Linked DNA regions of Homo sapiens. The protein of the gene in region 1 interacts with the protein of each later gene in a biochemical or structural test. Each region holds a gene or a part of one and is shown on either strand. Other genes may lie near its edges. The genes, in order: IFT172 and LHX4.

Region 1 (3,814 bases):
GGAGTTTGAGACCAGCATGGGCAACACAGTGAAACCCTGTCTCTACCAAAAAAACAAAAAATAAATACAAAAATTAGTCGGGCATGGTGGCATGGGCCTGTAGTCCCAGCTACTCAGGAAGCCGAAGTGGAAAGATCACTTGAGCCCAGGAGGTTGAGCCTGCAAGTGAGCTGAAATAGCACCACTGCACTACAGCCTGGGTGACAGAACAAGACCGTGTCTCAAAAAAAAAAAAAAAAAAAGATGCTGTGGAATAGGGGATAAGGAAATTCCAGGAGCCCTCCTAGAGGAGGTTGGACTTCTAAGGCATTTGGATTGAGATACTAAGAGAGGAAGCTAGAGGAGAACTCAGGGACAGAGAAAAAGTTGGATGTGGCCACTGAGAGGATTTGTGTTTAGGAGCCTGGAGCTTACTGCTTATAAGAAGGGATGAATTAGGTGAAAGGGACCTTGAGACAAAGGGAAATAAAAACTCTTAGAGTAATGAAAAGTGAAAATTATTCCCATTTATGTAAAATATATATATTTATGTATGTAGATTCATAGAAAAAAGAGTTAATAGTTTACTCTGGAAAGGGGAAAGGAAAAAGATGGGGGATAAAAAGGAAACTTTCATGTTTTACTCTATATAATTGTGTGTTGTTTGAATCATTTACATTAAGAATTACTTGTGAGCCGTGCCTGTAATCCCAGCACTTTGGGAGGCCGAGGCGGGTGGATCACCTGAGGTCAGGAGTTGGAAACCAGCCTGACGTGAAACCCGTCTCTACTAAATACAAAAAAATTAGCTGGGCGTGGTGGCACATGCCTGTAATCCCAGCTTTCTGGGAGGCTGAGGCAGGAGAATCGCTTGAACCTGGGAGGCAGAGGTTGCAGTGAGCCAAGATCGCATGCCATTGAACTCCAGACTGGGCAACAAGAGTGAAATGCCATCTCAAAAAAAAAAAGAATTACTTGTATAGGCCGGGCACAGTGTCTCACTCCTGTAATCCCAGCACTTTGGGAGGTCAAGGCGGGTGGATGACCTGAGGTCAGGAGTTCAGGACCAGCCTGGCCAACATGGTGAAACCCCGTCTCTACTAAAAATATAAAAATTAGCCGGGCATGGTGGAACGTGCCCGGAATCCCAGCTACTCGGAAGGCTGAGGCAGGAGAATTGCTTGAACCCGGGAGGGGAGGTTGCAGTGAGGTGAGAACGCGCCACTGCACTGCAGCCCCGGCGACAGAGTGAGACTCCATCTAAAAAAAAAAAAAAAGAAGAATTATTCGTATAATACTGAAATTTGACCCTCCTTAAAAAAAGAAGCCCTATGCTCTTTGTGGGCCCAGACGGTGTTGGTTAATGTGTAGCACATCTCCTTTTCTGAGGAGCTTTACCAGGTGCATATTAAAAATTTCCAATACATGCTGGGCGTGGTGGCTCACGCCTGTGATCCCAGCACTTTGGGAGGCTGAGACGGGCTGATCACAAGGTCAGGAGTTCGAGACCAGCCTGACCAACATGGTGAAACCCCATCTCTACTAAAAACAGAAAAATTAGCCTGGTATGGTGGCACACACCTGTAATCCCAGCTACTCAGGAGGCTGAGACAGGAGAATCGCTTGAACCTGGGGAGGCGGAGGTTGCAGCGATGAGATTGTGCCACTGCACTCCAGCCTGGGCGGCAGAGTGAGACTCTGTCTCAAAAAAAAAAAAAAGAAAAAAGAAAATTCCAATATACAAGCATTTTGAGGTTTTTCTAGAGCACAAGGTCAACCCCTATGTGTATAGGGGTGTGTGTGTGTGTGTATGTGTGTGTGTGTGTGTGTGTGTGTGTGACAATTTGTGAAGAGTTCAGGATTAGGATGTGTTGGGATAGGGAAATGTTGGAAGAGATTTCTGCAGGGTATGATGGTCAGAGTGAATGTACCAGGTGTTGAGAGTGAGGAATTTCTCGGGTGGAGTCTTCGAAGAGTGATTGAAACCCTCTACTTCTGTCTTAGGGGAAGTTGGTTAACCACCCGTGTCCACCCTATGCCTTGGCATGGGCAACCAATAGCATCGTGGCTGCAGGCTGTGATCGGAAAATTGTAGCCTATGGAAAAGAAGGTCACATGCTACAAACTTTTGATTATAGCCGTGACCCTCAGGAGCGGGAGTTCACCACAGCTGTATCAAGTCCTGGGGGCCAGTCTGTTGTGCTAGGAAGTTATGACAGGTAAGTCCCCTTTCCAGTTTTATCTACTGCCTACTTTCCCTGCGAACACTCTCTGCTTTAGCCAAATTATTCTGAGCCAGAGTGCGAGACTGGAGCAGAATCAAATGTATGTATGTAATTCATGCGCTTTCCTCTTCCTGCTCCCGCTATCCATTGGTGTGCTGGCAGTTCCAAAATGTCCTGGGCTCTTGTTTTGTCTCTGTGCCGCTCCCTGCACTTCCACAGCAGAATTCATCTCTATTTTCTGTTTCCATTGCCCCCTTTGAGACCGCTTAGAGTTTCTCACATTATATTACAGTTTGTTGTTTGCAAACTACTGTTGTTTAGCCAGATAGATGGCTAAATCAGAGTCCTTGAGAAGGGGGCTTATTATTCATCTTTTCAGTGCCTAGATTAGCATCTATATGCTATATATATTTAAGATATGCTCAGATGTTTGGCGAATGAATGAATGAATGATGGAACAGCAGATAAACAGCCATGTTCCAGGTCTCATCATTTCTCTGGCATGTGTTTAACCCCAGCTTTATCAGTCCTGTCTTTCTATCCCCTTCAATCTTATGTCTCCTTGTATTCTCTTCTTTCTTCACTGACTCCTACCATTTATCTCCTTGTTCCATATTTTTTTGCTCCTAGTAGCTTATTTTTCTCACCTGCCCTGGTCTTTTTGTTTTCTCTGCTCCCCTCACTCTTATTCTGTTTTAGTTTTGCCTTGATTTTCCCAGCTTATTTCCTGTGCACCTTTATATCCTCTTCTGCTAGACTGCCTAGCTTGTCTGTTCTTTTTATTTCCTTTCTTTTCTGATATAGCAAGACTAATTTCCTTTGGTTATCAGCCCATTTGCACTCTTTAGCTCAGCCTCAATCTCTTCTAAAAGCCACATACTTTATTTCAGGCTTCGGGTGTTCAACTGGATCCCTCGAAGAAGCATCTGGGAAGAGGCAAAGCCCAAGGAGATTACCAATTTATACACCATCACTGCCTTGGCCTGGAAGCGGGATGGCTCACGGCTCTGTGTGGTGTGTTACTAGTAATCCCTTTCTGGATTGGTGACTTTCACCAAACTAGAAAAAAATCCTGCCTTATCCTAAAGCACTGTTCCCTGACACTATAGAATCTCCTCTTTCCTTTTGACCCTGACCTAAAATTCTGGCATTAAAGGCAGGAAAGAGAAATTCATACTTTACCCTAGGTCACAAAAGGGACAAAAAATTGTGTGTAGGCAGGGCTAGTTTTTCCCTTTTATCCCATTAATATGTTGTGCCCTTGAGTCCAATGATTGTAGCCTCTTTCCTTTTGGTAATTCCAAAAACTGCCAGCTCTTTCACTGCCAACTCTTCTCTAGACTCTAGAGCTTAGGTTTTGAGGATGTCTCTAGATACTCTCCCCATGCCAGTGTACTATGTGTGTGACCTTTTATGCTGTCACTTTCCCTTCTAGGGCACACTATGTGGTGGGGTGGAACAGTTTGACTGCTGCCTCCGAAGGAGTATTTACAAGAACAAGTTTGAGTTGACGTATGTGGGACCTAGCCAGGTAAGCAGGATGGTAGCCTACTGCACTGAGAACTTGCGTGGCTCATTCCTCCTTATAACATTTCCCTGCCTTCTGGCCA
Region 2 (3,814 bases), on another chromosome or scaffold:
CATCGCACTCCCAGACCTGTGCTCCATTCAGGCTTCAGTCTGCTTCCAGCCGCCCGCCTAGGGGGTCCTGGGGGCTTTGGGTTTGTGGTGGACGCCCCCTGAGTATGTCCCTTGTGCTTGTGTGGCAGGTTTGGTTTCAGAACAGAAGGGCCAAAGAGAAACGCCTGAAGAAGGATGCAGGGCGGCACCGCTGGGGGCAGTTCTATAAGAGCGTCAAGAGGAGCCGGGGCAGCAGCAAGCAGGAGAAGGAGAGCTCTGCAGAGGACTGTGGGGTTAGTGACAGTGAGCTGAGCTTCCGAGGTGAGCAGGGCTGGAGGGGCCAGGCCGAGGCCTTAGGAAAGTCCCCTGGGAATCTGTAATCCCTGGCACTCAGGAGGGATCTTTCTTGAGGCCTTGGCAACTCCCTCCTGAACACAGGCTTTTCCTTAAGACTTGCAGTGAAGGGTGGGGGAAATGGTAGTGGCCCTTTACCATGGGACAGGAGTAGGAAACAAGATTGCTGAGGTCTGGAAGCTGGGATGGGCCAGGCCCCGTCCTGTGGCCCCAAGGTCTCCCCTCCCCTCCTGCTGACTGGGGCCTCCCTCATCAGCCCACACAGCTATGAACAGATGACTGGGTTCCAGCCTTGTGCCCCTAGCCCCTCTCCCATCTTTGTCCCCTTTGCTGGGACACTGGCCTACTCCCATAGTCCCCTAGAGCCACCCCTTCCTCCAGTCCTGGTGGTGGGGAGGTCATGCTCCACAGGTTTTTTCCTGGGAAATCAGTACTGTGAGTGCATGTGAGATGGGGAACTGGCTTCACTTCCGAAATCCCTTTCCCCACCACTCACTTCATTCTGTCCCCTGCACACAAGCTTTGCAGCATGCACTATATTCAAATTCATGCATCAGCAAAATTGTAAATTACTGCATGTTATGAATCCTCAGGTTGTTTGCAAAGAATCATAACTGTTCTCAGGTACTGAGTTCTCAAATGTGGAAGGTCTTCTGCGGAGGGGGAAAGGGAAGAGTACTCAACTGGCGATCAGAGACCTGGTTTCCAGTGCAGCTCTGTCAAATCGATTCACTTCTCTTGAGCCCCAGTATTCCCAAGAGGAATACCATATCTTTGCCCATCTCACTGCGTTGTGGGGATCAATGAACACAACCAACTGTGGATGTGCTTGGGGAAAGCCTGGCACATTTGTATACCTGGAAGGCATGATCGTTCCCACAGGGAGCGTGTGGCTCCCGCAGAGGGCCCTGGTCATTTGGGATGACAGGTATAGGGAAAAGGCTAACTCATGGCCATTTGACAATGGAGTGGAGCCTTCATCTTCCTGCTCCCTTTAAAGAGCATGAGCTCCCCCCACCATGTTTTTTCATAAGGGGAATGGGGGGCAGGCCTCAGAAGGGATGGGGTGTTGAAGTCTAGTCTGGGGAGGCCTTATTTAGGGATTGGTGCAGAGGCCCAGGTGGAAATAGAAAAGGAAGTTTGTGGGACAGAGGATGGAACAAGTTGCCTGCCAGGACAACGATGCCCTGGGAGGACTCTAGTTCAGCCCAGAGGTCAGCTGAGCCCTAGAGGGCAGCCTCCTCTGAGAACACAGGGCCCGTGAGGCCTTGGGGACAGCTCATGGGACTAATACTCACCTTTTAGGCTTCTTGGCAGGATTGGGAAAGTCAATCTCATCTGGGCTGTTGAAGTCAACACCTAGAACATACTGGATTGTTAAGCTCATTTCTGTTGGGTGCAGGTGGGTCCCTGGGCTGACCTATCATTGGTTTCTCTGGGAATAATTTCTCAAAGACTAAAACTGCTCACCTCTGTTGGAGAGAGAAATTCTTTCAAGTGGCAAAGATTCCATTAGATCCCCTTAATGAAATTCTTTAAGAAAAAAGAAGGTTCATTTGCCTTAATCAAGTCAATTCTTTGTCCCCAGTGAAGAGCTTATTGAATACAGACAGAAACCAAGTCCTTTGATATTGAACCTCTCTTCCAGATAGACCAGAAGGATTTTGTACAGATGTCTAAGAGTGGTCCTCAGCTTCCCTGACCATATGGGCCTGCTTGCTTCCCAATCAACTAAACCAAGCCCTTTCTCAGCTTGAAAGCTTTCAGGGTAAATGTTGTCAGCATGTAGTTTCCATTTGTGATGTGGAGACATCTGACCCACCCAGCCTTAGGCATTCATCCTCCTCAGTGTAGCCAGAGTATTAGTACACGAGCCACAAGGGACCAACGAGCTCACCAAACATTTGTCCATCCTTCTGGGACCTGGGAATTTAGTCTTTGCAGGTGTTTCTTGTTTTTCTCCTTGGCCTGGGTTGGCCTCTGGATATCAGGCTGCCATATTGGTGTGTCTGACCCATGCTTGGCTGCAAGGCAGCTGCCATCCTTGGGCATCTTTCCTGGTCATGTGTGTTCCTAGGTTGTGAAGAGCAGGGGACCATCAGAGTCCTGGCAGCTGACAATAAATCTCCGTTCTTTTGTCCACAGAGGATCAAATTCTCTCAGAACTTGGCCACACCAATAGGATTTATGGCAACGTGGGGGACGTTACAGGCGGACAGTTAATGAATGGGAGCTTCTCCATGGACGGGACAGGACAATCCTATCAGGACTTGAGGGATGGGAGCCCCTATGGAATCCCCCAGTCTCCATCCTCCATATCGTCCCTGCCATCCCACGCTCCTTTGCTCAATGGGCTGGATTACACGGTGGACAGTAATTTGGGCATCATTGCGCATGCAGGGCAGGGAGTAAGCCAGACGCTGAGAGCCATGGCTGGGGGACCCACCTCTGACATCTCCACAGGAAGCAGTGTAGGCTATCCCGACTTTCCAACTAGCCCAGGCTCTTGGCTCGATGAAATGGATCATCCTCCTTTTTAAACTTCTCTCCTCCCCACCCTACCTGCCCCCCTGGCTTGAGAGAATATCTTCAAGGATCAAAAGAGACTTGCCTTTTAAGGATCGAAAGTACGCCAATGTGAATTTCCATTATTTTCAATGGAAGTCCTCCGCTGATTCCTAGAAGGCTGTGAGACCACACTAGGGCATTGTTTCCCTGGGGAAGCAGTGGGAGAGCAGACTCATCTCAGAACACAGCACAGGGGGTAATGGCCTAGAGCTCTAGGGACACTGGCTTGTTGGGTCTCTCCCCTGCTGTTCTGCTTAGGGGCTTGGCTGCTCAGTGCTTTGGTAGCACAAGGTGACTGTGATAGGCCCCCTTGGCCTTTGGGAACTTTGCTCCAACTGGTGTGTCTCACACAATGCCTCCCAAAACACTGCTCTCACCAGAACTGAGACTCCTAAGGTAGAGGCCTCACAGCCCTTGAGTAAAATAAAAGTGATTTCTGGACCATCCTTATTGAACCCTATATTTCAAAATGAAAAGATCAGTTATTAAAGGTCAGTGAACACTTTGATGGCCAGTTTGATATTAAAAACATGCCCCCTCCTTTTTTATTTTTGCTGTGAAGATATGAATTCTTTCCTACAAACCAGAGAATATGAACCTGTTTTGGTTTTTAAGTGTCCCATCTATATCATTGACTCTGATGGCAAGAGGTGGTTTTCATTGCAGGTGACTGAGGCTGAGCTGAGTAGCCCTGGACCACCGCTGCAGATTGCCTGAGTCGTCCCCTTGGTGCACAGTGTGCCTTCTTCAATTGCTTGTATCATTTATTCCACAAGACAGGCTGTGGGCTGTAAAATGAGCAAAACTAAAATGTGGGGAGAACAAAATGACAATCAATCAGTGAACATTTGTAGACACATTTGGATTCCAAACCTGCAGTCTGTTCAGCCATATCGGCTGATGCCAGTCTTCC

What was found.
Region 2: the proteins of IFT172 (region 1) and LHX4 form a complex in vitro, tested with the Homo sapiens proteins (one study listed by BioGRID).

The regions. Positions count from the first base shown.
Region 1 is NC_000002.12:27,479,430-27,483,243, reverse strand, and holds part of IFT172 (intraflagellar transport protein 172 homolog), read left to right. Parts: intron 1-1,983; coding exon 1,984-2,198; intron 2,199-3,094; coding exon 3,095-3,218; intron 3,219-3,639; coding exon 3,640-3,735; intron 3,736-3,814. UniProt on the Homo sapiens protein: Required for the maintenance and formation of cilia. Plays an indirect role in hedgehog (Hh) signaling, cilia being required for all activity of the hedgehog pathway.
Region 2 is NC_000001.11:180,271,707-180,275,520, forward strand, and holds part of LHX4 (LIM/homeobox protein Lhx4), read left to right. Parts: exon of another isoform or gene 1-128; coding exon 129-300; exon of another isoform or gene 301-2,478; coding exon 2,479-2,873; 3' UTR 2,874-3,814. UniProt on the Homo sapiens protein: May play a critical role in the development of respiratory control mechanisms and in the normal growth and maturation of the lung. Binds preferentially to methylated DNA.